Linked DNA regions of Homo sapiens. The protein of the gene in region 4 purifies or fractionates together with the protein of the main gene of each other region. This does not show direct contact. Each region holds a gene or a part of one and is shown on either strand. Other genes may lie near its edges. The genes, in order: splicing factor U2AF 35 kDa subunit-like protein, NDRG2, PDHX, MICALL2, NAA30, PON1 and NUBPL.

Region 1 (3,500 bases), on a different chromosome or scaffold from region 4:
CTGGCACACGGGTCTTTGAGCTTGCTCAAAACTCTTTTTATCTTTTTTTTTTTTTTTTTTTGAGACAGCGTCTCACTGTCTCCAGGCTGGAGTGCAATGGCGTGATCTTGGCTAATTTTTGTAGTTTTAGTAGAGACGGGGTTCCACCATGTTGGCCAGGATGGTCTCAATCTCTCGACCTCGTGATCCACTTGCCTCGGCTTTCCAAAGTGCTGGGATTACAGGTGTGAGCCACCGTGCCCGGCCCCCTTTTTATCTTTGAAGATAAAAAATAACTTCTTATTTTCTAATTCTGAGAATGATTTAAGTTCACTTTCTAACCTATCCGGGGCTGTTTTAATTATTTTTGAACTTCCAGGAATCTGCTTTCGAACCCAAATTTTATTAAGTGTAACTACTCGGACAGCCTGCCAATCATATCACAGGATATCCCAATTGGAAAGCTATTGGGAATGTACCTTCCTCCCCGAGTAGAAATCAAGTTATAAACGGCCAAAGTAGCCTATTCCAAAGGGCAGATTTTAATATTTCAAATTCACTTCCTTCCCACATAAGAAGAATGTGAAGAGGAGAAAATTATTCACATGCTCAAAGTTTTAGCAGGTTTGAGAAATGGTTTTGGGGTGATTATTTTAAATTATTGGCTATATTTGTTCTGCTTAAAATGTTTCAATCAAAGTGACTTGAAAGGCAGAGACAACTGCATTAAGATACAATTAAAAACTTATTTGTGACTCAGCCTATGTTAAATACTACAACTTGGAAAATAAAGCAGTTTTCTTACAGAAATATCATTCTTAAACTGGGATTGATAGTTAACTTTAACCCACGCATTTGAAGCTTATTTTTTTACATACTAAAGGGTATGTTGAAAAGAGCCAGTAATTTTAGGTAATTGATTTCTTCCTAAAATGACGAATTAGAATTTCATCTAATTTGTACAATCTGGACTCCAGAATTGGAATATAACGTAATTGCTAAACTTTTAGTTTGTAGCATATGGAAAACAAAAGTGCTGTGAACTGCAAATAAAGACACAATGAAAACTAATACAACATTCTATTGTCAGTCAAGAAAGCATATACAGTCCCCAAATAAACGATCAGGGCAAAGAATTAATTACTGTTACTCAGTCATGTACTTCCATTCACTTTTATCCCAGGGCAGGGTTGTTAACAAAAATTATTTAATAAGTGCATATAGAAACAATTTCCCTCCGCCTATTGATCTTATTTCCTTAAAAAACAAAAGAAAACAAACAAACAAAAAAACAGGTATTTTAAACCAAGGGTTACCAAGTAAATCCTGCTACCATCCGACTCAGGGAAAGAAATCTCTACTATCAGGTCAGTATTAGCACTGAAAAGCATTTAGTGTCTTGGCAGGAAAAGTTGACAAGAAAATCTCATCCACACATAGAAATGTGCACCACTGTGCAAGGAAGCACAATCCCCAGGCCACCCAGTGCAGGGCCAGCTCGAGAGGGGAATGCCCCCTGGGATCAGCTACCCCATGTCGGTCACCCCATTAACTGAGGGGCTCTGGTTCAAGGGTGTACTCAATTTAGGCTTGTGGATATCCAAGGGCACCTCAATTTTTACTGCTTTAAAACAGAATGGTGAATGGGAAGTGCCTATCTTTGGTTTGGACTTTCTGATTTTAACAAGAGTCCAGGTGTTCATTTTAATTTATCCATAAATGACTAAATTCTAATGATTCTATAGTTGGATGGCTGTAAAAATCAAATTTTAGTTTTCTGAACTTCCCAATCATACTCATCTATGATATCTCCTTCTCTAAAAATTATCATTAGGTAAATATTCACAATCTAAATTTAGTATTTCCCAGTACAGGAAGATATTGGTACCATCTACTGAATGCCCAGTTTTGATCTATTTCTAAATGGAGCAAACCAATTCCATCTCCTAGAGCTGGAGACTGTATCCAGGCAGTGTGTGGACAGAACGGACAATCTTTTCTGCCAAGGGCCTATTTGAGTGGAGCACCCCCACACGGGTTAGACGGGTCGGCACGGGGCTGGTGGGTGAGGAACTCAGGGGTCAGTGCAAGCTGCAGACCCTCATTTGGGGAACGCTCTCAGCACAATGCTCTTACAACTACAGGGTGCACTCCAAAATGGAGTTCAAGGAAAAAAGGCTAATGAGAAATAAAATCTGAAAAAATAACTTAAAAAGTTTGCTTTTTAAAAATTCCAGAAAGTGAGAGAAACATTCAAATTTTGTTGCTCTAAGAGGGAAGAATATGACTCGACGTTTAATTCCAGTACATTCCCTCTAGGATGACGGCCAAAGTAAAGGAAGAAGGGGCAGCAGCAGCTCCAGACTGGTTTTTTTTTTTTTTTTTTTTTTTTGGAGACGGAGTCTCACTCTGTCGCCCAGGCTGGAGTGCAGCGGCACGATCTCAGTTCACTGCAACCTCCGCCTCCCGGGTTCAAGCGATTCTCTGCCTCAGCCTCCCTAGAAGCTGGGATTGCAGGCATCTGCCACCACGCCCAGCTAATTTTTGTATCTTTAGTAGAGATGGGGTTTCACCATGTTGGCCAGATTGGTCTTGAACTCCTGACCTCATGATCCACCCGCCTCGGCCTCCCAAAGTGCTGGGATTACAGGCGTGAGCCACCGCGCCCGGCCCAGCTCTAGACTGTTTTAAAGGGCACCCTTTCCAGTTACTTTTTCCCTTTTAACACACGGTGGGAGTTCAAATCTCCAAAAGAGGTTTCCATGGGGTCAGTGGGACGAAAGCTCCTTGCCACCTCTAGTGAAACGCGGTCCTTGACACTAGCACGGCAGACCAGATGGAGTGGACACTGAGCTCTGACACGCAAGCCCAGGGAACCGGGGAAGGAACTTGTATGAACTTACAGCGCAAACCGTCAGCAGACTGGGAAGAGTTTTGAGGGTTACGGTAAATGTTCAAGAGGGCAATGGTCTGAAATACAAAACGCAACAACTTTATATTATGGAAAATTAAAGGTAAACACTTAACCGGCTGCCTCTGGCAAGTGCTTCAGTTGAGATTCAGTGCTGAAAAGAGAGCAAGTTATTTTCTGGAGAAGCAGAGGCGTTTTCTCAGTTGGCGGCTGCCTTGAATCCCTAACACTGCGGTGTAACGGAGGTCTCATGATATGCCCATCTTGTACTTCTGCTTACAGAACGTGAAAACTCTCCTTTTCAAAATTCCAATTCAGGTAAAAGCACAAATAGTTTGCCAGGCTAGCACCAAAATGTTCTTAGATGTGGCAGAAAATTTTTAATGAACTCGGAAAGAATAATGCTTACATAAACTGATGGAAAAAATTACTGTATTAGAGAAATACAATTGTTACATATCATGAAATCTCCACTTCCTGGAGGAAAAATTATAATGGTGAAATAAAACCCACACTTACTGGGCAACTTACCTTATTGATTCCTTAATATTCCTAAGAGTTTTAATTTTACACAAAGAACTTAATAAAGGCCAGGGGTTCAGTCACTGTA
Region 2 (2,895 bases), on a different chromosome or scaffold from region 4:
AGGGGTTAAAAGAGTAGGAATTTTAGGTGGGCAATGCTATCTAACCAGATATAAGCTATCTCTCCCATGATGGAACTATCTTTGTCTAAAAATTACGGTCAAATCTTGGTTATTAAAGGTGGAAACCAAAGGAGAAAGGGGCAGGCAGGCCCCAAGCACAGCCCCTATAGTCACTTGTGCCCTAGATCCCTGGTCAGAGGGCAACAAAAGGGGAGGAAGGACACAGGACACAAGATCATCTTACTTCTGGGAGTCCAATAATCCAAAGGAGGTAAACAAGAGAAGGGGGACAGCCCCTTGCAATCCTTCCCACTGACTCTGTCCTGAAGCTGCCCCCATTGCACACTAAATGCTGCATTCCTTGCACATTGCACACTACCCAGACTTCCCTCTCCTCCTCTGTGCCTCCCCCATGACGCCCAATTACTGCTTCTGCATTTCTCTCACATGCATACACACACAGCCCACCCACTTGTTGTAGCTGTTCCAGTACAATTCAATGTTATCCAGGTTGGGTGCATGTGTAATGATATTTCTGTACTTTTGTATCAACTCAGAATTTCCAGAGAGCTCTTCCTGAAGGAGAGAACAAGGAGAAAAATTAGGGATGGAAAGAGAAAACAACAATTACTGGAGGAAAAGAGGTAAGCCTTCTTCCTTCCCCAAATCCTGTCCCAGCTAAGGAAGTTAGCCCAAGCATTCAAGTTCCCTGCTGCTCCCGTCGACTCTTCTACATCTCCTACACCCACTTACCTGGCTGAAAAGATGTCCAAGGATCATCTCCGGAATGGAAGAGGTGAGGCCTGTTAGCTATGAGGAGAAGGCAGGTGAGAAAGTTCAGGGTATTGGCCAGGCACAGTGGCTCACGTCTGTAATCCCAGCACTTTGGGAGGCCGAGGCGGGTGGATCACGAGGTCAGGAGTTCAAGACCACCCTGGCCAAGATGGTGAAACCCCATCTCTACTAATAATACAAATATTAGCCAGGCGTGGTGGCGGGTGCCTGTAATCCCAGCTACTTGGGAGGCTGAGGCAGGAGAATCACTTGAACCCAGGAAGCAGAGGTTGCAGTGAGCCAAGATCAAGCCACTGCACTCCAGCCTTGGCAACAGAGTGAGACACCATCTCAAAAAAAAAAAAAAAAAGAAAAAGAAAAAGAAAGTTCAGGATATTATAAGAGACTCAGGCAAAGTGACAGCTTCACTTTCCTGCCCCTTTACTCCCTCCTTGAAGTTCAGAGTCCATCCAGTTAGGCTATCTACCAGAGCCTAACTGGATCCATACGAGGGGATCCCCAACCGTAGGTCTCAGCACACAGGCCCCTCCAAACCTTGTGGGCTGCCCAATCCATCCAACCCTTGGCATTGGGATCAATGTTGATGAGGACAAGACCTTCAACAGTGTCCGGGTGGTTAAGCTGAGGGACAGCAGAAGGAAGGAAATGAGAAACAGGGCATGGCCTTATCCCCTCCCCGCTAAGCTCGACCCACTCCTGGACTCCCACAGGGCCTGACTCCCCACCTAGTGCCCACTTCCTCCCCCAAACAGCACTAATAAACAGTATTCTCCTAATCAGTCTGGACCCTCCTTTCCCTCCTCTGGGCTTTTTATTTCTTACAGCATATCTCGCCAGGATGTAGGCTCCAGCTCCAACACCAACTCCAATTATTGTAGAGAAACTGTGAAAGGGAAAGAAATATACGCCTCATGGGATCTGCTGTCCAAAACCTGCCACAGCCCATCTCTTCAAACTCTTCACCCTCCCTCCTGAGTCCACGGGCACAAAGAAAGGCAGACACGGACCTTTCTTTGGAGGACGCGAAAAAGAAGGGCCCAAGAAGCCAAAGGTTGGCACGGGTAGTCAGGGTAGATACCTGAAGTCTATCCCCAGCTTTCTGCTGGAGAGCTAGTGTCTTAAAAACAAACACCCATCCACCAGCCAACCAACACACTGTTTTCCCATATAGATAGCTCTTTGTCCATTCTCAATTTTCAAGAGCCAGTTCAACTTGTTCTGCTTTAGTTCCTGGTTCCTCTAGAGGAACGGGAAGAATGGAACTTAAAGCAAATGTGAAAACAGACACAATTTTAGTGAACAATGGAGAGAATGAGGAAAAGAGTGGCAAAGTGGTGAACCAGAGCTGCTGAGCCCTGGTGCCTAGGAGAAGCTTAGCTAAGAACAGCACCCAGGGGCCAGCACCTCCCTCTGAATACCAAAGACACTTGGTCTGGTGTTCTCTTCCTTCCCCAACTCTCTCTCACCCGCAGAGCTCCCCATCCACCAGGTGTGGGCATGAAGGAGAGGGGAGTGGGAGAGAAAGAGACAGGTCTATCTGGTTCCTCAGGGATTATGTCACCCCCTTTCATTCCTCCCTGACTTTCTGATCAGAGAAGGCCCTCCTTAGCCTGAGGCAGGGCCAAGCATAGACCCTTTTCCTTCCCTCCACCCATTAGGGCTATTCTGTTGACTCTGGCCAATTTTCCAAACCCACCACCTTTTCTCAATAATCAAGGCGGGAGCATGAAGGAAGAAGATATATTGAGTTCAGAAGCTGAAACTGGCTCAGGAACCACGGTGAACCTGGAAGTTCTAAGGGTCTCCTTGTGCTGGAAAGAGAACTCTGGTTTGGAGGGGTTCCCAGGCCTCTCACTTTAGGTACTGCAGGACGCAAGGGATCATGTCTGCAAGCTGGTCCAGAGATGGGTACTGATATCTGGAAAAGAGAGGCATGTTAAGGAAGATACCAACCTGCCCTCACACCCCCCACCTCAGGATGTCCTACTCATTCTCTCCCAGAATAACCACTGCCCTCCCTTTCCTCCTCCCCAGTCGAACCTTTCCCGCACCTGTCCTGTTCCTCACAGTCTGGTGAAGCAGTAACGACCTAACTCTTAC
Region 3 (3,500 bases), on a different chromosome or scaffold from region 4:
CAGTACACACTTCCCTCTGATCGTCACTTGGCTGGCTTTTTTTCATCATTGGTTTCTCAGTTCAGTTGCTAATTTCTTAGGCCTTCTGCAGCTTCTGTAGCTGAAATAGTTTCCTAACACTCTTTATCTCATTACCCTGTTTTATTGTCTTCATATGGTTTATTAGTCTTTGAAATTACCTTGTTTATTTATTTGTTCACCCTTCTGTGTTCCCTACTGTCTGATGTTCACTGTCCATTGCCATTTATCTAATTCTAGAAGAGTGCTTGGGATACAGTAGTTGCTTGGTGAATTTATTTTAAAACAAATTTCAGTAAAACTTGTTTCATTGAAATTAATTTTTCAAGAGTTTGTGGCTCTCTGCAGATTCATCCATGAACCCCAAGTTAAGAATATCTGTACTACGCATTTACTTCTTGACCCTCTGTAATCCCAAGGATGCCACTGTGGGGGCTGTAGGCATACCCCAGCCAAGTTCAAGTTGGTATTCCTTGAATAAAGTAATGTAGTGACACACCTTGGATCCTGTGTTATTCTTAATTCTTCATTACTTATAACAGTATTAAAAGGCAGAGGCATAGTTTACCTTATAAGTACCCAGTAAATTTTTTTAATGAATAGCAAGGCATTCGATGTATTGTAGAAATATTTAGTGGTCATTTTTTATTCTTTCAGCTGGATGCTTCAGGTAACATGTACTTTGATTTTGAGTCCACATTGCCAGGAGATCCCAGTGATGATTACAAATTTATAAAACCAACGATCCTTCTCAGATTCCATACCTATTTCAGACTTACTAGAGTTCACTGACAGGAATTTCCTGTTGATGTATTTAGGATCTACAGAGTTTTTGTTTTTAGTATGTGTGCGTGCAATCTACTTATTAAAGTGAGTTTTTTTCATTTGTGGTAATTGTGTGGTAGTTCATCAGGATATGTTGAGATCATCTGCCTTTAAAAAATGCCTTTTAAAGTTCATATATGTGTCTTTTCAAATCATGTGAACAATTACATTGCTTAAGGGAGGAAAAATGCTTTTATAGATTATTCTCTCTCCCGTTATTCCAAGAACTGTATAAGTCAAAATTCATCTCATTTTTTACCTTGAATCCAAATAGTTTTATAAATAACCACATCCAAATAGCATACACCTGTAATTGTTTCTGTTGGCAGTACGTTACAGTAATGTGTTTTTAGATTTTTGATATTTTTAAAGACTTTCAATTTTAAAAAATTAAATCATCTATGAATTAAAGTTAGTTATCAACTGTGATTGTAATAGTGCCTATGTTGCCTATGTAATACAAAATATTAAGTAAATTCCACATTTATTTTATCTACCCAAATGACAGTGACCTCATTTTTCTGTACCCTTCCTCTTAAGTTAATTCGTTATTAATTTTTTATATATGATGACTCAACCTCTGTTCCCTTGCTTTTAAGCACTGAAAAATAAAAATTAACAGAAATGTGGTTAATTCCAAGTACAAGTGAGAGGAAAATTTAACTAATATGTCATCTGTCTTGTCTTCTGTAAGATTTTTAGAAATCGCTGTGGTCAAGAGTGATATGAATCAAGTACATCCTTATATTCCTTGTGGCAGTGTAAATTGGACTAGCTCATTCAGGAAATGATTTAGCTATAGGATCAAGAACCAAAAGAAGTCTATTCTCTAGGGCACTATAATTCCACTTCTGAAAATTTACCTGAAATAATTCAGAAGAAACCGTGAACCAAATTATAACACTGGGAAATAACCAAGTAAATTAGGCAGGTGCAGTCTTTAGGAACAAACATTAAAAAATCATTTCTGAAGGCTGACAACACAGAAGATACATATAATATTGAACAATTAAATATAAAATTTATTTTTTATAACCATTGTGTGGGGTTGAGATTGTGGATAAAGATGAAGCAAACTCTGAAAGATAAAAACGGAATGTTGGTTGTGGGATTGTGGGTATACTACTTTGGTTGCCATTGGATAATTTATTTAAAACACACAGATTGGCCAGGCATGGTGGCTCATACCTGTAATCCCACCACTTTGGGAGGCCGAGGTGGGTGGATCACTTGAGTTCAGGAGTTGGAGACCAGCCTGACCAACATGGTGAAACCCCATCTCTACTAAAAATATAAAAAATTAGCTGGGCGTGGCGGTGGGTGCCTGAAATCTCAGCTACTCAGGACGCTGAGGCAAGAGAATTGCTTGAACCTGGGAGATGGAGGTTGCAATAGGCCATAATCACACCACTGCACTCCAGCCAGGGCAACAGAGTGAGACTTCTCAAAAAAAAAAAAAAAAAAAAAACTAAAAAACACTAGATTGACCAGAATGGATTCTTGTATTTTTTTTCTTACCATAAAGTTTTATAGGCAAAATAGAAAATTTCATTTTGCATATAGGAAACTCTAAAGCATTTTGCATAATAATTGATGGTACACAGGGTAATTCCCACATTTGAAAAATTGTTAAAGGAAGTGATTTTTCTAGAGTTTTGATTAACAGCTTTAGTTTCTTGAATTATCTGTGCTCTTGTTTGTTCTTATAATTAGAGAAAATTATTTTTATATAGGTAACAAAATCAAATCAAGGCATATCAGAGATGAGAGTATATGATGTACAAATATTTCAAGTGACAAGATCAACTGTATAACATTTTGTTGGTTGTCCTATTCTGTTTGTATTTTTCTCAGGCTCTATCAAAGAAAGCAAGAGATGGAAAATTGTTGCCTGAAGAATACCAAGGAGGATCTTTTAGGTAAAATTTAAACTCTTAATTATCCATAGCATCAAACAGATAGATGTAAGACTTATAAAGTCCCTGTCAGCCTTTCATTTATCTGAAATATTTTTTAAAATTTAAGCTAAAAATACTTTATTTAGACAATAGAATATCTGAAAAAATTCTTCAGACTAGTCAGGCTTTCATATTAAAGCTAGTAGGAACCTATTAGTGTTGAACTAAACGTTCGTTGGACATTGACTAACATGGAATGATAAATATTATGTATTCTTTAGTATCTGACCCACCCCCAATATTAATGTCTGTAATATTATATTGCTATGTGAAACAACCACTTATTTATTATTGCAGCATATAATATTCTATTGTATAAATATACCAGAATTCATTTTACTGTTGGTGGGCATTTGCGTTGCTTCCAGTTCGGGGCTATTACAAATTATGGTGCTATGAACATTCTTATTAGTGTCTTATAGTGAATGTATGTACATTTTTTGTTGTATAGACCTAAAAGTAGAATTCCTAAGTTAGAAGCTTTAGCAGCTACTACCAAACAATTTTCCAAATGGTTATACAAATTTACACCTCCACCAACGGTCCTGAGAATTCCCATTGCTCCACATTCTTGCCACTATTTAATAATGTTAGGTTTTAAATTTTAACAATTCTTGGGGTGTGTAGTGGTACTCTTTGTAGGAAAATGCAAATTAGTGATGTTGAGTACTTTTCACTCATCAGCCGTTTGGGTATCTG
Region 4 (3,500 bases):
TGGCTGGGGAGGGCCTATAAGTAAAAGCGCAGGCATCAGGCACAGCTGGATCCAGGCGCCCTCCCACCATCACCCGAGGCCGCCCCTCTGCCTCCCTGCAGCTCACTCCCAATGCCCAGCCTCCGGACGGACTCCCACCATCACCCCAGGCCACCCTCCACCTCCCCCACCATTGCGCCAGGCCACCCCTCCGCCTCCCCCACCATTGCACCAGGCTGCCCCTCTGCCTCCCTGCAGCTCGCTCCCAATGACCACCCTGGCAAGGCACAGGCCACAGACACCTGTTTCTGGCATGAGCATATGCTGTGGTTGATTCTCCTCCCCTGTGAAATCCAGTGTTGGCTGAGATTAAAATATCCACCCCCTAAACACACCACCCACCCAGGCTGGAGGCACCTGGGGCTTTGTCAGAGGCTGGGCCGGCCTGGGCTGCCAGGTTCAGTCCCATGTGACACAGTCTCTCTGGCCCCGCCAGACACACAGACACAGGGCCAGACACAAGGCCTCCGTGCCTTCCTGCCTTCCCTCAGGCACACACCAGGAGTGAGGCTGCCAGAGCCTGAGGTGGGGGCACCAGGTGCCTCCCCACCCCCGAGCCAGTGCCTCCATGTCCCCACCCCCCTCGACAACCAGTTTCCCTCCCCCCTTTCCCTTTACACTGGGCTCAGGTGTGCCAGGCCAGCTTCCCCAGAGGAGCTGGGGTCCTCCCCAGCCACACATGCCCCCCGCCCCACCACCTAGGAAGCACTCCCTGGAGCACCCCCGCCACTCATCCTCAGTCCCTAGGATGCCCTGGACACCCCCCAGTGCCAGGAGGAGCAGAGCGAACTCGCTCTTCTCCTGTCTGTGACCACCCCGGAGGCTCTGAGCACCCCCTGCTGACCACTGCGGGGGCAGGAGGCAGTTCTGAGCAGGGGACGCCTGCACCCCACGATACGGGGCAGGAAACGGCGTTGTCAGCCAGGCTGCGACAAGCATTCTTACTCGCTAAGTGACTGTACTTGGTCGAATGGTGACCCCTAAAAGTCATGTCCACTGGGAAGCTCAGAGTGTGACCTTATCTGTAAACCATCTTGGCAGTTATGATCATGTTAAGATGCACTCACGCTGGGTTAGGGTGGACCCTAGTCCAACAACCATGTCCTTAGAAGAGACAGAAGAGGAGAAGACAGACAGAGAGAAGGCCACATGGAAACGGAGGCAGAGACTGGAGGGAGGCGACCACAAGCCAAGAACGCTCAGAGCCGCTGGGAGCTGGAAGAGACAAGGACAGGTCCACCCCTAGTGCCCTGCAAGGGGACGCGGCCCTTCCCCCGCCTCAAGGTCAGACTTCTGGCCTGCAGAGCTGTGAGGGGGTGGATTTCTACTGTGTAAGCCGCCCAGTGAGGGGGTCTTTGGAAACTGATGCAGCGCCCCCCTCTACCCGTCCACGTCATCTGCTCAGGGTCCAGGCACAGGCAGGCGCCGGGCCCAGGCATGGAAGGTCAGGGCCTGGCTGGACTCAGTCAGACAAGGTGATGCTCAGCCCAGCCAGCGTGGGTCCCGCTCGCGACCTGTCCCCGCGTCCACTCAGACCCGCCAGCGTGGGTCCCGCTCGCGACCTGTCCCCGCGTCCACTCAGACCCGCCAGCGTGGGTCCCGCTCGCGACCTGTCCCCGCGTCCACTCAGACCCGCCAGCGTGGGTCCCGCTCGCGACCTGTCCCCGCGTCCACTCAGACCCGCCAGCGTGGGTCCCGCTCGCGACCTGTCCCCGCGTCCACTCAGACCCGCCAGCGTGGGTCCCGCTCGCGGCCTGTCCCCGCGTCCACTCAGACCCGCCAGCGTGGGTCCCGCTCGCGACCTGTCCCCGCGTCCATGAAATGGGCGTAGGACCCTTGGGTTCCAAGGGAGTGCAGCACAGGGGGCCCCGGAGCGGCAGCGCCACCGCACCCATGACGCCCCGAGCACATGCGGACAGCAGCTTTTCCATAAGGACCCGGCTTCCACCACCCTGACCACAGGCACTGCCACCCTGGCTCCTCCTCCCCATTCCCCAGAGAAGGAAACAGGCTGGGGGAAGTGCAGTCCCCAAGGCCACACAGCCAGGGAGGTGCAGCGCCCCCAACCCCTCTGGCCTCCGGGGCCCCGCTGGCTGGTGCAAAGAGGCCATACCCGGGGTCCCTCGGTCCCCACGCGCTCACCTGCCAGGCGCCGGAGCGCCAGCCTCTTCCAGCGCTGAGAGGGCCTGCTTGAGGAAGTTCCGCGCCTGCTCCTTGCTGCTGTCCTTGGATAGAACAAGTGACGGGGTGGGACCTCTGCCAGAAAGGCTGGTGCCGGGGGGCACTGCTGATGTTTGGAAAAACTTATTCCGGGCCTGCTGGGTCCTGGAGGCGGACGGGGTCCAGGCTGGGGGGTCCACCGTGGCTGCAGATGTGGAGCTTGAACTGAGTGTGGTTTGAGGAGCTGCCACTCGGGGGGCTCCCCCACCCTGGGGTGTGGCCGGGCGAGGGTCTGGGGCACTCGGGGGCACGGCGGGATGGGAGGCAGCCGCTGCTGTGCACGGGGCAGCTGACGACCAGCCCATCGGGGAGCTATTGGTCACACGAGGGCGGACTTTCCCCTCCGTGGGAGTGGGGGCCAGGCGGCTCTCAGAGGGCCTGGCTGGGCTCCTCACGTGGACGGACGTGGCGCTGGTGGCTGCAGGGTTGGGTGCAGCTGGAACGGAAGCCCTGGCAGGCGAGTTGCCCGCAGCAGGCTCCCAGGCCGACGGTCTGGCCTTGTTTGCCTCCTGGGCCTTCTGTGGGGAACAGGAGGTCCTGGAATCCACACCCATGGCCCCTGGCTGTCGGGGGACCAGACCCGTCAACTTGGGGCTTGCAGAGGCGGCTGCGGGGAGGTGGCTGGTGCAGACGAAGGTGCCCGGCTCTCCTGTGGCCTTGTAGGCCCCCGAGTGCAGCGTGCAGGAGCACTGCTTACACCTGGGGGAGGAAAGGCACAGGAGCCCCAGCTCGGCACCGCCCACCCCGCCACGCATTCACCACGTGCTCCTGATAGCAGGCATTGCGGACTCCTGTGTCCACTTGCGAGGTTGCTGAACGCCCGCCCCGCCACGCATTCACCACGTGCTCCTGAGAGCAGGCATTGCGGACTCCTGTGTTCCACTCACGAGGTCGCTGATTCATTCAACAAACGCCTCTTCTCAGGGTCCTTAACCACTTACATCACAAACCCCACCAAAAACCTCGTTTGGGGTGCAAACCCCAGAGGGTGCTTGTGCAGGTCAGCAGACACACACCCACAGGCCACCCCAGGCCCCACCTCGGGGCTGACCCACCCTGGCCTCACAGCGTGGGGGATGGAACTGGGAGGACCGGCCCACCCCAGCCTTGCAGAGCTGGGGACAGAAGTAGGGGGAACAGCGCTTGTTTCCTAGGAGCCCCCACCCGGGGTGCAGGGTGGCAGCAAGGGGCTGGGGATGGCCACTGAGTACAACACCAGTGGGAAGGGCTGAGGCACAGAA
Region 5 (3,500 bases), on a different chromosome or scaffold from region 4:
GCTTTCCTTTAAAAAAAAAAAAAAAGCAACAAACTTTCCTGAAAAGGGGCCTTTACCAACTGTTAATGGAGGTAGGGTTTTTAAAAATACAGTAATTAGAGCCACAAAATATATTCCAAACCAAATACTAGAGCAGAAGTAGAGCATATTCAAATGAAAACAACAACAGATTCCTACAGTTTTCACAGAGAATGAATCTTTTTTCTTATGGGTACCTAGGTTTTCCAGTTAAATAAATTATCTATCACAGGTTTACTGACTCAATTGAAAGCAATTAACTGTAAAATTTGTTACATTGCACTGATTGGCCAAAACACAATGTAACTAATAAACATGGTGGCTGTTAAGAAAACCCACAGAACTCATTCCAAAAAAGATTTTCATTTCCCCCTTTTGTTTTTCTGGCAGAAGAAAAGCAAAGCTCCCCCAAGAATTTGCTCATACAAGTGAAAATAAAATAAAGCAGCTTAAAATGGATACAATGCACCTTGAAATTTATTTCCAAGACCAAGAACCTGAAGTGAAGCATTTTAAGAAATGAAAGCAATGTGAATCCAAATCAAGTGGGAAAAACAAATTCAGCTACTTTGTAAAAGCTGTTCTTCGCAGCGTAGCAGTAATTTTGATTAAATAAAATCATATCAACTTACACTAATTTTCTATTCTTTTCCAAAACTTCCCTTACTCTCAAAAGAAAAAGTGCATCTAAACCCCAGCAATTCCCGGCTCCATCAACTTTTCTTATCTCTTTTGAGCCATTTCTCAATTTTCCAAGTAGATTCAACTTGTTACTGTAAGGAAAAAGGGACTTCTAAAGTAAACCATTCTTTCATTCACCTGAAAAAAGTATCCAAATTATAAAAATCTGAAATAATTTATCAAATTTAGAATTTAAATAAAAACAAAAGTTTGCTTGCAAAGGCCTTAAAGAAAAGGAAAAGATAGCATGCATTCAAAAACTAGAGATGAAGACAAATATACTTATCTACACAGGCACTGGCAGACAAAATTTAATTGTTACCTTTACTCATTGTAAGACATACCCACCCTACATTTTTTTCATTCACTAATCACTGAGGTACCAATATTCAAGAATGGAAAATTTAATATTGAAAAAATAAAACCTAAAACTGAAGCGTCTCCCTCACCCACTTCAGAAAACTAGGGCAGGTTTTGTGTGAAATGTTAGTATACTTAAAGACTTTTACAATCCACATTGGCTTTTTTAAGGAACAAAAATTATGTTCCACTTACTGGTTCTGTGATAAAATGATCACTGTGTAAATAACATTGTCAGCAGACTTTGCAAATGAACACATAAATCTTGGCTATCAACTGGCACATCTTGTTGGTACCAAAAGAACTCCTGAAGTTTAAAACAATCTTTTAATTCAGAACAAATGTGCCATGCCAAAGTGCAACAAATATTGTGCGACACTCAATGAGACACTGACAGGTAAGAGCTGCATGGAAATTACTAAATCCACCTGCAAAGCAATTCTGTACAAATTGCATTGCATGCAAAGGTCGATTCTGTGCGGATGATAGTTGTTCCTTGATGTCAGTTTCTCAACGCAGCCACAGTTTAAGTCGCAGTGCATCAACTCCATTTAAATAGTATCTGAACAGCCTCTTATCTCGAACAAAACCAAGATTTTCATAAAGTTTCAAAGCGGACTTATTTGTTATTTCGGTTTCCAAAACAACCTTCAAAGAAATGAGAAAAAAACTAAGTTATAATTACACAATTTAAAAAATAATTTACCAACTAAACAATTTTTTAAAAAATCATACATTATTTTAAAAATTGATAGTGAAAACAATAAATAATATACAGAAAGAACTCAAAAACAGTCATCAAGATTGTAATATTATATTTGGGTCAAGGGCTTGGAGGACCACTGCAGATTTATCTTCTGTTCTACTGATTTGTGTAGTTTGAAATGTTTAGCAATGAGAGTATGTTTTATACTAAAACAAAGATTAATTATTTCCCTGTGGGGAAAGGTAAAATGACTACAGATGAAAATAAAATCAACAATCAAAAGTGCTGGTTTATTTCCTTAAAATAATAAGCTATATTATTATAAGCAGCTATTCAGATTGACTTCCAACTTCTGTATTTTCATTAATATGTCATTTATTCTGGCAATAACTACCATATTTGTCTGGAGTCTCGACCAGAGTCTGCAAACTATAGACTTTGGGCCAAATGTGCCTGCTGTTTTGTAAATAAAGTTTTAGTCAAACAGCCATGTTTATTTGTTTACATGATGTCTGTGGTGGCTTTCTCAATACAAGGGCAGAGCTGAGCAGTTGCCACAAAGACCTATGGTCCACAAAGCCTAAAATAATTACTAGTGGGCCTTTTACCAAGAAAGTTTGCTGAATCCAGACAAGAGGTATTCAAAATGTTACAGTGTATCATAATCACCTGAAGGGTCTGTTAAAATAGATTGCTGAGCCCCACCCTCAGAGTTTATGAGTACGTTTGCAGTAGGACACAAGAATCTGCATTTTTAATATTTTTAAATTGCTAGATGATGATGTTGCTGCGGTCAAGGGACCACATTTTGAGAACCACTGGTCTATATAGCAAAGCTTAACAGAGGAACACATAGTATTAACTTTCATTTAAGTCTTTTGAAATATTACTGAGCCAGTGGCCCTGACAATGAATAACTGGTATTTTTGAAAACTGCGATTTTATTTTTACCTCCCTCTAACACCCTCTACCCCATCTTCCCAACTTTTACACACGTAGCTCTATTTGCCTTTTCAATTGTTTCTCAACTTATTTCATTGAGAACTATCAACACAGTGAGCCACAGTTACTATTGGGTGTCATAACCCTCAAGTGTTTGGAGTGGGTGGGGGGGAAATGGCAAAGTATAATTAAACAAAGGCCCAAGTGAAGCATAAGTCTCTTCCTGTTCTTTCTCAAGCTATCAAAAAGTCTGACAAGAATGCAAACAACTGATGCAAATAATAAAGACAGTACCTCAACTTATATCCAAAATTGAACTCATAATCTGCTCTTCCTCCTCAATTCCATATCTCAGTAAACAGGATCACCCCCCACCACACCAATGCCTCAAACCTGAAACCCAGGAGTCATCTTTGAACCTCATTCCTCTCCAACCACCTATATGCATCCAAGCACTGATTATTGTCAATTCTCCCTCTTAAATCTCTAAGTGGTCCTCTTCTTTCTATGCTCGATATACCACAGTCCAAGCTGCCATCAACTCTCACTATAATTACAAGAGCCTCCTAACTCAAGAGGTCTCCCATTCTCTCTAGAGTTAGGGTGATGCTCTTGTTAATTCTCTACTTAAAACCGTTTACTGATTCCCTCTTGTCCTCAAGAGAAAGTCCACAATCTAAAAATAATATCAAGAGACATAAAAAGTCCATCAATATATTGGCCTCAGCTTTGCTTTAGGTCTCTCTCTTCTTGCTTTCCATGCTCAACACTGAATTTTCAGTTTCTGGAACCC
Region 6 (3,500 bases), about 94 Mb from region 4:
TATCTCATGGTGAGCTATAACAAACAATTTGCAAACCAACATTGGTCTGGAGACTGCATTTTGGGTAGCATTGGTATATACATGAAATATCTATATCCATCCACATATATGCCCTTTCTCATCTTGTGTCATCATCAAGGATTTTAGAGTCCGTAACATATGCTTAGAGAAAGCAACAGGGGCCAGGTGTGGTGGTTCATGCCTGTAATCCTAGCACTTCGGGAGGCCAAGGTGGGTGGATCACCTGAGGTCATAGACCAGCCTGGCCATCATGGCGAAACCCCATCTCTACTAAAAATACAAAAATTAGCCAGGCGTGGTGGCGCACTCCTGTAATCCCAGCTACCAGGGAGGCCAGGCAGGAGAATTGCTTGAACCTGGGAGGTGGAGGTTGCAGTGAGCTGAGATTGCACCACTGCACTCCAGCGTGGGTGACAGAGCAAGACTCTGTTTTTTTTTAAAAAAAAAAAAAAGAAAGAAAGAAAGAAAAGAAAAAGCAAGCAAGCAAGCAAGTGAGAGCAACAGGGACAGGGACAGCTTTTAATTATTCATATCATAGACCAGTTTTCAAAAAATAGAAGATAATTGAGCAGTAATTTCTTTTTTTTGTTGGGGGGATGCACAGTGCTTAGACTAACCCCAGATCTTTGTGGGGTATGACTAAAGCCACAGGGTCAGGACCACACTCAGGGCAGAAGAGGAGGAAGACTTCTCTTGATCCAAGCCAAGCAGCTTTTCTTCTCTCATATTTTCTCTGGATTAAAACAAGGGGCTGTTGTCCAAGGGCTTTCCTGCAACTTTCCCGAGAGAGAACTCACTAGCCCCTGAAATGCAGAACCTGGGCCTTGACACTAAATTGTCAAACCAAAAGAGAAACGCTGTAATGCATTTTACTCCCAGATACTAAAAGTTAGTGTTAGGGCTAAGTTCCTCCCATACTGATAAGGACAACTATGTCCCCTCCTTCAGAAACAACTTTTCAGAGATTAAACCCCTCTGTCACTGTAAACTCACTGAGTTCTTTCAGAATTTGGTGTGTTTGAGGTGGGTTCCATTTTCCATTCCTTAAGCAAAGTTCTTCCCTATGAATAGGTATTACAACTTCATCTTAATCTCTCAAGTTGTGTTACTTCTAGTACTTTGATGTAGCTCTTTCTTCTTTGAAGGTATGTCTATATAGCTGAGTTGCTGGCTCATAAGATTCATGTGTATGAAAAGCATGCTAATTGGACTTTAACTCCATTGAAGGTAAGACGTATTAACACTGTAAGTCTGCAGAGTGATAATTAGATTCTAATTGATTTGTGAAATTAAATGTGAAGAAAAAAGGACTGCTTAATTGGGGTGGGTGAGAACCAATTTTTCACTCCTTTATTAAGAGTCATTAGCTTGGTTATGTGTTTGTTGTTCATTTTTACTCAACTGCAGAGTGGCAAACAGCAAACCCCACCTCTTACCCGTGAACCTTGCATTCTTTCTGCTCTAGCAAATTTTAAGCTTGGCATTGTGTTCCCAGATCCTCCTTCCATCCCTCCCTTCCTGCCTTTCTTCTGATCTCCCTCTCCTCCACCTTCCTTCCCTCTCCTCCCTTTTCTTTCTCTTTTTTCCTCTATGTTGATGGAACAGCCAAGAAATAGCCTCAAATTGTACTTTATGCAGGGCTGCTCTCCACAATGTTTATGAAGTCCACGTGCTCACGATGGCTGCTAGGTGACCTGGCTGCCCCTCACCTCTCTGCCTTTACCTCCAACCATTGTGTCCCTGCCCCACGTCTCCTGCCACTGTCTCAGAACGGGGCACCATTCCCTCTGCTAGGAGGAGAAACCTTCCTCCAGATCTCCATGACCCCCTCCTTCATCTCCTTTCATTTTTACTAAAACGTCACCTCGATCTTCAAAACCTGGAACTGCTCCCTCCCGCTACGTATTTTCCCTCGCCTTTCCTGCTTTATTTTTCCATTCAGCACGTATTGCTAACATACTATATATTTTATTCATACCCTTTATTACCTGATTCCCCAACTAGGGTGTAAGCTCCACAAGGACAGGCTGTTTTTCTATTTGCTTCTGGTACAATTCACATTGACTAGTTGGCACTTAACAAATACTTGTTAAATTACTGCGGTGGGGCTGGGCATGCTTCAGGGATTCACCTGCTGCCCCCACCAATTCTGGTCATCTGAAGGTTGGAGTCAAAATGGGTGAAAACACAAAGGAGAGGAAAAAGAGACCAAGAGCAAACTAGAGCCCTAAGAAAGCAGCCCTCTACCTCCGAAAAACAGCAAGACGTTGCTTTCCTGCCATAAACGCCCACTGCAGGAAGCACTGTCAGCGCCAATTGTATGACTGTTCCTGTCAGCACATCTGAGAGACTGTCATGAGGGGCCTCACTCAGAGAAAATTACCTTAAAGCAACATCAAATGTAACATCGTGTTTGACATTAAAAATCACTGGCAGGGCTAGTTTGGTATTAGCTCAAGTAAAATGGAATTTCACACGCTCATACTGGCTAAGGGAATAAAAAACAAGCTGCGGTTTTAACAACAGGTATTTCTGTAAAACAAAAGTTAAAGAATTTTATGAGAATAGAACCCAATGTAACAGACATTCACCACAGAATGTCAAGGCTCTGCTCTCACCAGGGTGAGACTGAGGGCAAGGCCAGTTTCAGCAACAGACCAGGCCTGTCTCCCATCATGAAAACCCCAAAAAGGTTCTCCATCAATTGTCACATTATTCTTTCTTTTGAAAGACCGTATTAATTAATATCAGTTAATTAATGCCCGAGAGTGCCAAGTAATTTGATAAACTAGCTGAGGCTATTCTTAAATTTGTGATGAGGTGTGGATGGGTTTATGTCCAATTGGATATTGTTCAGCCTTAAAAAGGAATGAAGTTCTTGGCCGGGTGCGGTGGCTCACACCTGTAATCCCAGCACTGTGGGAGGCTGAGGTGGGTGGATCACGAGGTCAAGAGTTCAAGACCAGCCTGGCCAATATGGTGAAACCCCGTCTCTACTAAAGGTACAAAAAATTAGCCAGACATGGTGGCACATGCCTATAATCCCAGCTACCTGGGAGACTGAGGCAGGAGAATCACTTGAACCTGGGAGGCGGAGGTTGCAGTGAGCTGAGATCACACCATTGTACTCCAGTCTGGGCAACAAGAGCAAAACGCCATCTAAAAAAAAAAAAAAAAAAAAAAAGGAATGAAGTTCTGATACCTGCTACAACATGGATAAGCCTTGAAAAACATGATGCTAAATGACATAAGCCAGCAACAAAAGGATAAATATTGTACGATTTACTAATAGGAAGTACCTAGAACAGGCAAATTCATGGAGACAGAAAATAGAATAGAATGGTGATTGCTAGGAACTTGGGGGAGAGAAGAATAGGGAGCTATTGTTTAATGGGTACAGGATTTCTATTTGGGGCTGATTAAAAGTTCTGGAGAGGGATGGTGATGATGGTTGCACAACATTGTGAATATACTTAATG
Region 7 (4,250 bases), on a different chromosome or scaffold from region 4:
ATCTCTCTTTCCTTTCCCCACATTTCCCCCTTTTCTATTCGACAAAACCGCCATCGTCATCATGGCCCGTTCTCAATGAGCTGTTGGGTACACCTCCTAGACAGGGTGGCGGCTGGGCAGAGGGGCCCCTCACTTCCCAGACGGGGTGGCCGGGCAGAGGTGACTCCACCTCCCGGACGGGGTGGCGGCCGGGCGGGGTCTGCCCCCCACCTCCCTCCGGGACGGGGCGGCTGACCGGATGGGGGCTGCCCCCCACGTCCCTCCCGGACGGGGCAGCTGGCCGGGCGGGGGCTTTTCTCTCTTCTTTCATCTTTCTTCCTTCTACTCTCTTCTTCTTTCTTCTTCCTTCTTCTTTCTTCTCCTTTTAATTTCCTCTTCCTCCTTCCTCCTTCCTTCTTTCTTCTTCTTCTGACAAGGTGTCACTCTGCTGCCCACGCTGGAGTGCAGTGGTGCAATCATAGCTCACTGCATCCTTGAACTCCTGGCTCAAGCAATCCTCTTGCTTTGGCCTCCCAAAGTGTTGGAATTACACGCGTGAGCCACCATGCCTAGCCTTAGCAGTCCATTTCTAACCTCTTTACAACAATCTCCTTGCCATTCTCCCAGCTAACTTCTACACATTATTCAGATTCAGCATTCAGCTTAGATATTACCTAATTTAGAAGCTTCCCCTGATTGAATTGAGTGCCCTTTCTTTGTATCACTTTGTCCTTTCTCCTGTATCCCTCAATGCTTTTCTCCTGTACTTATCATATTATACCGCAATTTTGTTGTTAACTTATTCTGTCTTTTGCACTGGATTATAAAGCCCTTTAGTGGAGGAATTATGTCGGTCTCAATGCTGAATATTTTAAGTCTACTGTAGTACTCGGTACATAGTAGTTGCTCAACGAATATTTGTTAAATAAATGAGTCTTAAGTCTGGAAGAACTTGCAAAGTTCTTTACCAGGTTGCTGGTAAAGCAACCTGACCTTTCTTTCAGGGAACTGTCAGCAACACAAGCCATGAATACCAACGCAAAACAGACTCTCACTGTAGATCACACGGGAAAAAATAAAATAAAAAGGTAAAATCCTTAACGGTGGTAGTATTTAAATGACCATATACTGCTTAGTAAGAAATCCTGGGGTCATTTTCAAGGTCCCCCATTTCCTACTTTTGTTAAGCTGGGTCAAGTCTCTTTAAACTTTCTCCGTTTTCTTGTCCATAAAAAGAGTATACTAGGTAAGTCTTCTGTCTACCTCGGGACTTCTGTAAGTATCATAAGAGATGTTTTATATGACAACACTTCACAAACGTTTAGTAAAACGCTGCAAAATGTTTGTAGCTGGCTATAAACAAGATCATGCAGATTGGGTTCCTGAGCCAACAAACCCAAAGAAGACCGGTTGCTAGGAAGAGAAAGCCGAGCGTTGCTCCGTGACGTCATCACTCCGCGCCACCCGCGACAGTTTCCCAGCAGGGCTCACAGCAGCGTTCCGCGTCATGGGGATTTGGCAGCGTCTGCTGCTTTTTGGTGGGGTGTCGCTCCGGGCTGGTGGCGGGGCCACTGCCCCGCTTGGGGGAAGCCGAGCGATGGTTTGTGGGCGCCAGGTCCGTGGTGCTGCAGGGCAGGGGGAAGCGGGCTGACAGATGCTGGGCTGCAGGGCCGCAGATGCCCTGGCATTGCTTCTTGCCAAAGACTCGCCTCAGTTCCTGAGACCCCCAGTGTGCTGGACGTGCCTACTTTTCAGGCAGGCCCAGGCTGAGGCGTGGCGGGACTTGAAACACAGTTAGAACGTAGATGTGGTATTCTACATTGCTTTCTTGGCTTTGGGTTATTTATCAAATAGATTGAAGAAAAGCAAAACACGTGGAAGCCTTATCTCCGTAAAGAGGCAGCGTTTTTACATTTTTAAACGTTCAGCGTATCCTGCTAGAAAAATTTCAATTTAAGCAATGTGTCTTTACAATTGTTATCAGTAGTAGTAGGTAAATGTCTCCATAGTGAAGATGAGCAGAATTAGAAAAGAAAGCCCTCTTAATTGCAAACCCCAGATTGTTTTTGCTTTTACAGTGTGATGATGGAGATGGCTTATTTAAAACGGCTTTTTATTATTATTATTTTTTAAAGTTGTCTGGCGCCGGGAGTGAGACCCTAAAACAAAGAAGAACACAAATCATGTCCCGAGGACTTCCAAAGCAGAAACCGATAGAAGGTGTTAAACAAGTTATAGTTGTGGCTTCTGGAAAGGGTGGAGTCGGAAAATCTACTACAGCAGGTATTATAGGATATTAATTCTATTCCTGATTAAGAACTTATGCCAACAGACAAGTGCACACTATTGAAATTATAGTTTTGTGTTTTAAAAATTTATTTGTGAAGTTCCTAACATGTGATTCCTTAGTTTCAGGAGTTGGTAGCGGGTAGACGCTTAGATTTTGGAGTTAGACAAAAGTAGGTACTAGCCGGGTCTCCCACCCCTTAACTCAGGAAAAAGTGGTCAGATTGTACAGCAAATCTTCAGTTCACTTAACTGTAAAATGGAGATAACTTCTTTCATAAGATGGTTATTCAAATTGCACAAGCTAACCACTTAGCTTAGTGTTTACTAGTGTTCAATAATTGGTTGCTGTTATTTTTAAAACATCTAGTAACTTTTTTTTTTTGTTTTTTTTTTTTTTTTTGAGACGGAATCTCGCTCTGTCACCCAGGCTGTAGTGCAGTGGCGCAATCTCGGCTCACTGTAAGCTCCGCCTCCCGGGGTTCACGCCATTCTCCTGCCTCAGCCTCCCAAGTAGCTGGGACTACAGGCGCCCACCACCACGCCCGGCTAATTTTTTTTTTGTATTTTTAGTAGAGACGGGGTTTCACCGTGTTAACCAGGATGGTCTCCATCTCCTGATCTCGTGATCCGCCCGCCTAGCCCTCCCAAAGTGCTGGGATTACAGGTGTGAGCCATCGCGCCCTGCCTACTAGCTCATTTTTCCCCATTTTTATCAGAAGGGAATTCTGGAAGAATTTGTCAGATGTTTTGGAAAAGTTAAGATTTACCAAATATTGTATTTGTGGTGGATCACTAATCCATTACTATTTGATAGATACCATATTGTTAAAAAAAATTAATAATCTGTTCTTAATGAATTCATGTGCTCTCCTGCACATTTTTCCTTTCTTTCCTAAAGGTTTACAATCCATCTGGTTGTTTTTAAAATTTAGAAGCTCTTAGTTTTTGGTTCTAGAACCTTTTGGAGTACATTTTTCAGTTTTCAGTGGTTTGAATCCTTTTGCATGCTCTGTGATTACTTGAACTGGATAAGGATGGAAGGTGTTTTCATGATTGTAGCCATAAGTTCTTTGCGTTTTGTAATTTGTTGGGTCTGTAGGCTGGCACTTGTTTAAGATTGTTTGTTTATTATTTTTAGTTGGAAGATGATTGTTGCCATGAAATGTGAAAGCATTTAAACAGGAAAATGTATGAGAAAGTGTACAACATGTGACACGTAATGGGTGCTTCAGTAAATGTCCCTTTCTCACTTTTTTTCTGTTAACATTATACCATCTGTCCCGAAAAGCTGGCCCATACTTTTTCATAACAGCTCTGTGAGCATATCTAAGTCTTAAAAATAGGTTATTTTTATGTAACTCTATTGGTATTATTAATATATTTCTTTTCCTTATATGTATTTATTCCTGCCTCAAACTACTTCAAAATACTTCCCATTTGAATATACATGCTAGAGATGTTTTAGATTAGAATGATGACATTTGACTAATGCAAATATGCTCAGTGATTCTATTGTTTAAATGTAGGAAGAACCTAACTCTAAAATGAATTGCCCTCTGAAAGTTTCTGCCTTAAAGTTGTATTATGTGTAACCTATCTTGTACCTGAAATTCAGAATTTTGTAACTTATAAAAACGAATTTATCAAGTCTTTGCCCTAGGCTAAGTATTTTACATGCAATATTTCGTTTAATCCTGATCACAGTTATGAAGTAGGCATTGTTTTCATTTTATAGAAGAGAAAACAGACTTATGGGTAAAATAACCTACTCAAGAGTACACAATAGAAGGTGGCAGAGCTGGGATTTGAACCAGGTCTGCCTTAAAAATTTATGCTCTTAACTAGTTTTAAGAAAATAACCCTGACATAGTTTATACCATTGTTCTGTAAGGAAATGTGATTCACATTATGAGCGCCTATTTGTTGATCAGTCTTTGAATTGTGTTACTCTTCTCGGATGTAGCATATTCCTATTGCTGGTC

What was found.
Region 1: the proteins of MICALL2 (region 4) and splicing factor U2AF 35 kDa subunit-like protein purify together in Homo sapiens (affinity purification with mass spectrometry, with the first as the bait; one large-scale study listed by BioGRID). This does not show direct contact.
Region 2: the proteins of MICALL2 (region 4) and NDRG2 purify together in Homo sapiens (co-immunoprecipitation; one large-scale study listed by IntAct). This does not show direct contact.
Region 3: the proteins of MICALL2 (region 4) and PDHX purify together in Homo sapiens (affinity purification with mass spectrometry, with the first as the bait; one large-scale study listed by BioGRID). This does not show direct contact.
Region 5: the proteins of MICALL2 (region 4) and NAA30 purify together in Homo sapiens (co-immunoprecipitation; one large-scale study listed by IntAct). This does not show direct contact.
Region 6: the proteins of MICALL2 (region 4) and PON1 purify together in Homo sapiens (affinity purification with mass spectrometry, with the first as the bait; one large-scale study listed by BioGRID). This does not show direct contact.
Region 7: the proteins of MICALL2 (region 4) and NUBPL purify together in Homo sapiens (affinity purification with mass spectrometry, with the first as the bait; one large-scale study listed by BioGRID). This does not show direct contact.

Annotation. Positions count from the first base shown.
Region 1 is NC_000021.9:6,489,249-6,492,748, forward strand, and holds part of splicing factor U2AF 35 kDa subunit-like protein, read right to left. Parts: intron 3,045-3,500; coding exon of another isoform or gene 3,007-3,044; intron 2,950-3,006; coding exon 2,883-2,949; intron 1-2,882. UniProt on the Homo sapiens protein: Plays a critical role in both constitutive and enhancer-dependent splicing by mediating protein-protein interactions and protein-RNA interactions required for accurate 3'-splice site selection. Recruits U2 snRNP to the branch point.
Region 2 is NC_000014.9:21,019,167-21,022,061, forward strand, and holds part of NDRG2 (protein NDRG2), read right to left. Parts: intron 2,714-2,895; coding exon 2,651-2,713; intron 1,679-2,650; coding exon 1,618-1,678; intron 1,417-1,617; coding exon 1,330-1,416; intron 811-1,329; coding exon 754-810; intron 577-753; coding exon 473-576; intron 1-472. UniProt on the Homo sapiens protein: Contributes to the regulation of the Wnt signaling pathway. Down-regulates CTNNB1-mediated transcriptional activation of target genes, such as CCND1, and may thereby act as tumor suppressor. May be involved in dendritic cell and neuron differentiation.
Region 3 is NC_000011.10:34,989,618-34,993,117, forward strand, and holds part of PDHX (pyruvate dehydrogenase protein X component, mitochondrial isoform 1 precursor), read left to right. Parts: intron 1-2,697; coding exon 2,698-2,762; intron 2,763-3,500.
Region 4 is NC_000007.14:1,442,471-1,445,970, forward strand, and holds part of MICALL2 (MICAL-like protein 2), read right to left. Parts: intron 2,959-3,500; coding exon 2,182-2,958; intron 2,122-2,181; exon of another isoform or gene 1,107-2,121; intron 15-1,106; coding exon 1-14. UniProt on the Homo sapiens protein: Effector of small Rab GTPases which is involved in junctional complexes assembly through the regulation of cell adhesion molecules transport to the plasma membrane and actin cytoskeleton reorganization.
Region 5 is NC_000014.9:57,407,586-57,411,085, reverse strand, and holds part of NAA30 (N-alpha-acetyltransferase 30), read right to left. Parts: intron 1,708-3,500; coding exon 1,570-1,707; 3' UTR 1-1,569. UniProt on the Homo sapiens protein: Catalytic subunit of the N-terminal acetyltransferase C (NatC) complex. Catalyzes acetylation of the N-terminal methionine residues of peptides beginning with Met-Leu-Ala and Met-Leu-Gly.
Region 6 is NC_000007.14:95,304,033-95,307,532, reverse strand, and holds part of PON1 (serum paraoxonase/arylesterase 1), read left to right. Parts: intron 1-1,166; coding exon 1,167-1,248; intron 1,249-3,500. UniProt on the Homo sapiens protein: Hydrolyzes the toxic metabolites of a variety of organophosphorus insecticides. Capable of hydrolyzing a broad spectrum of organophosphate substrates and lactones, and a number of aromatic carboxylic acid esters.
Region 7 is NC_000014.9:31,559,954-31,564,203, forward strand, and holds the start of NUBPL (iron-sulfur cluster transfer protein NUBPL isoform 1 precursor), read left to right. Parts: upstream 1-1,450; 5' UTR 1,451-1,486; coding exon 1,487-1,594; intron 1,595-2,114; coding exon 2,115-2,262; intron 2,263-4,250.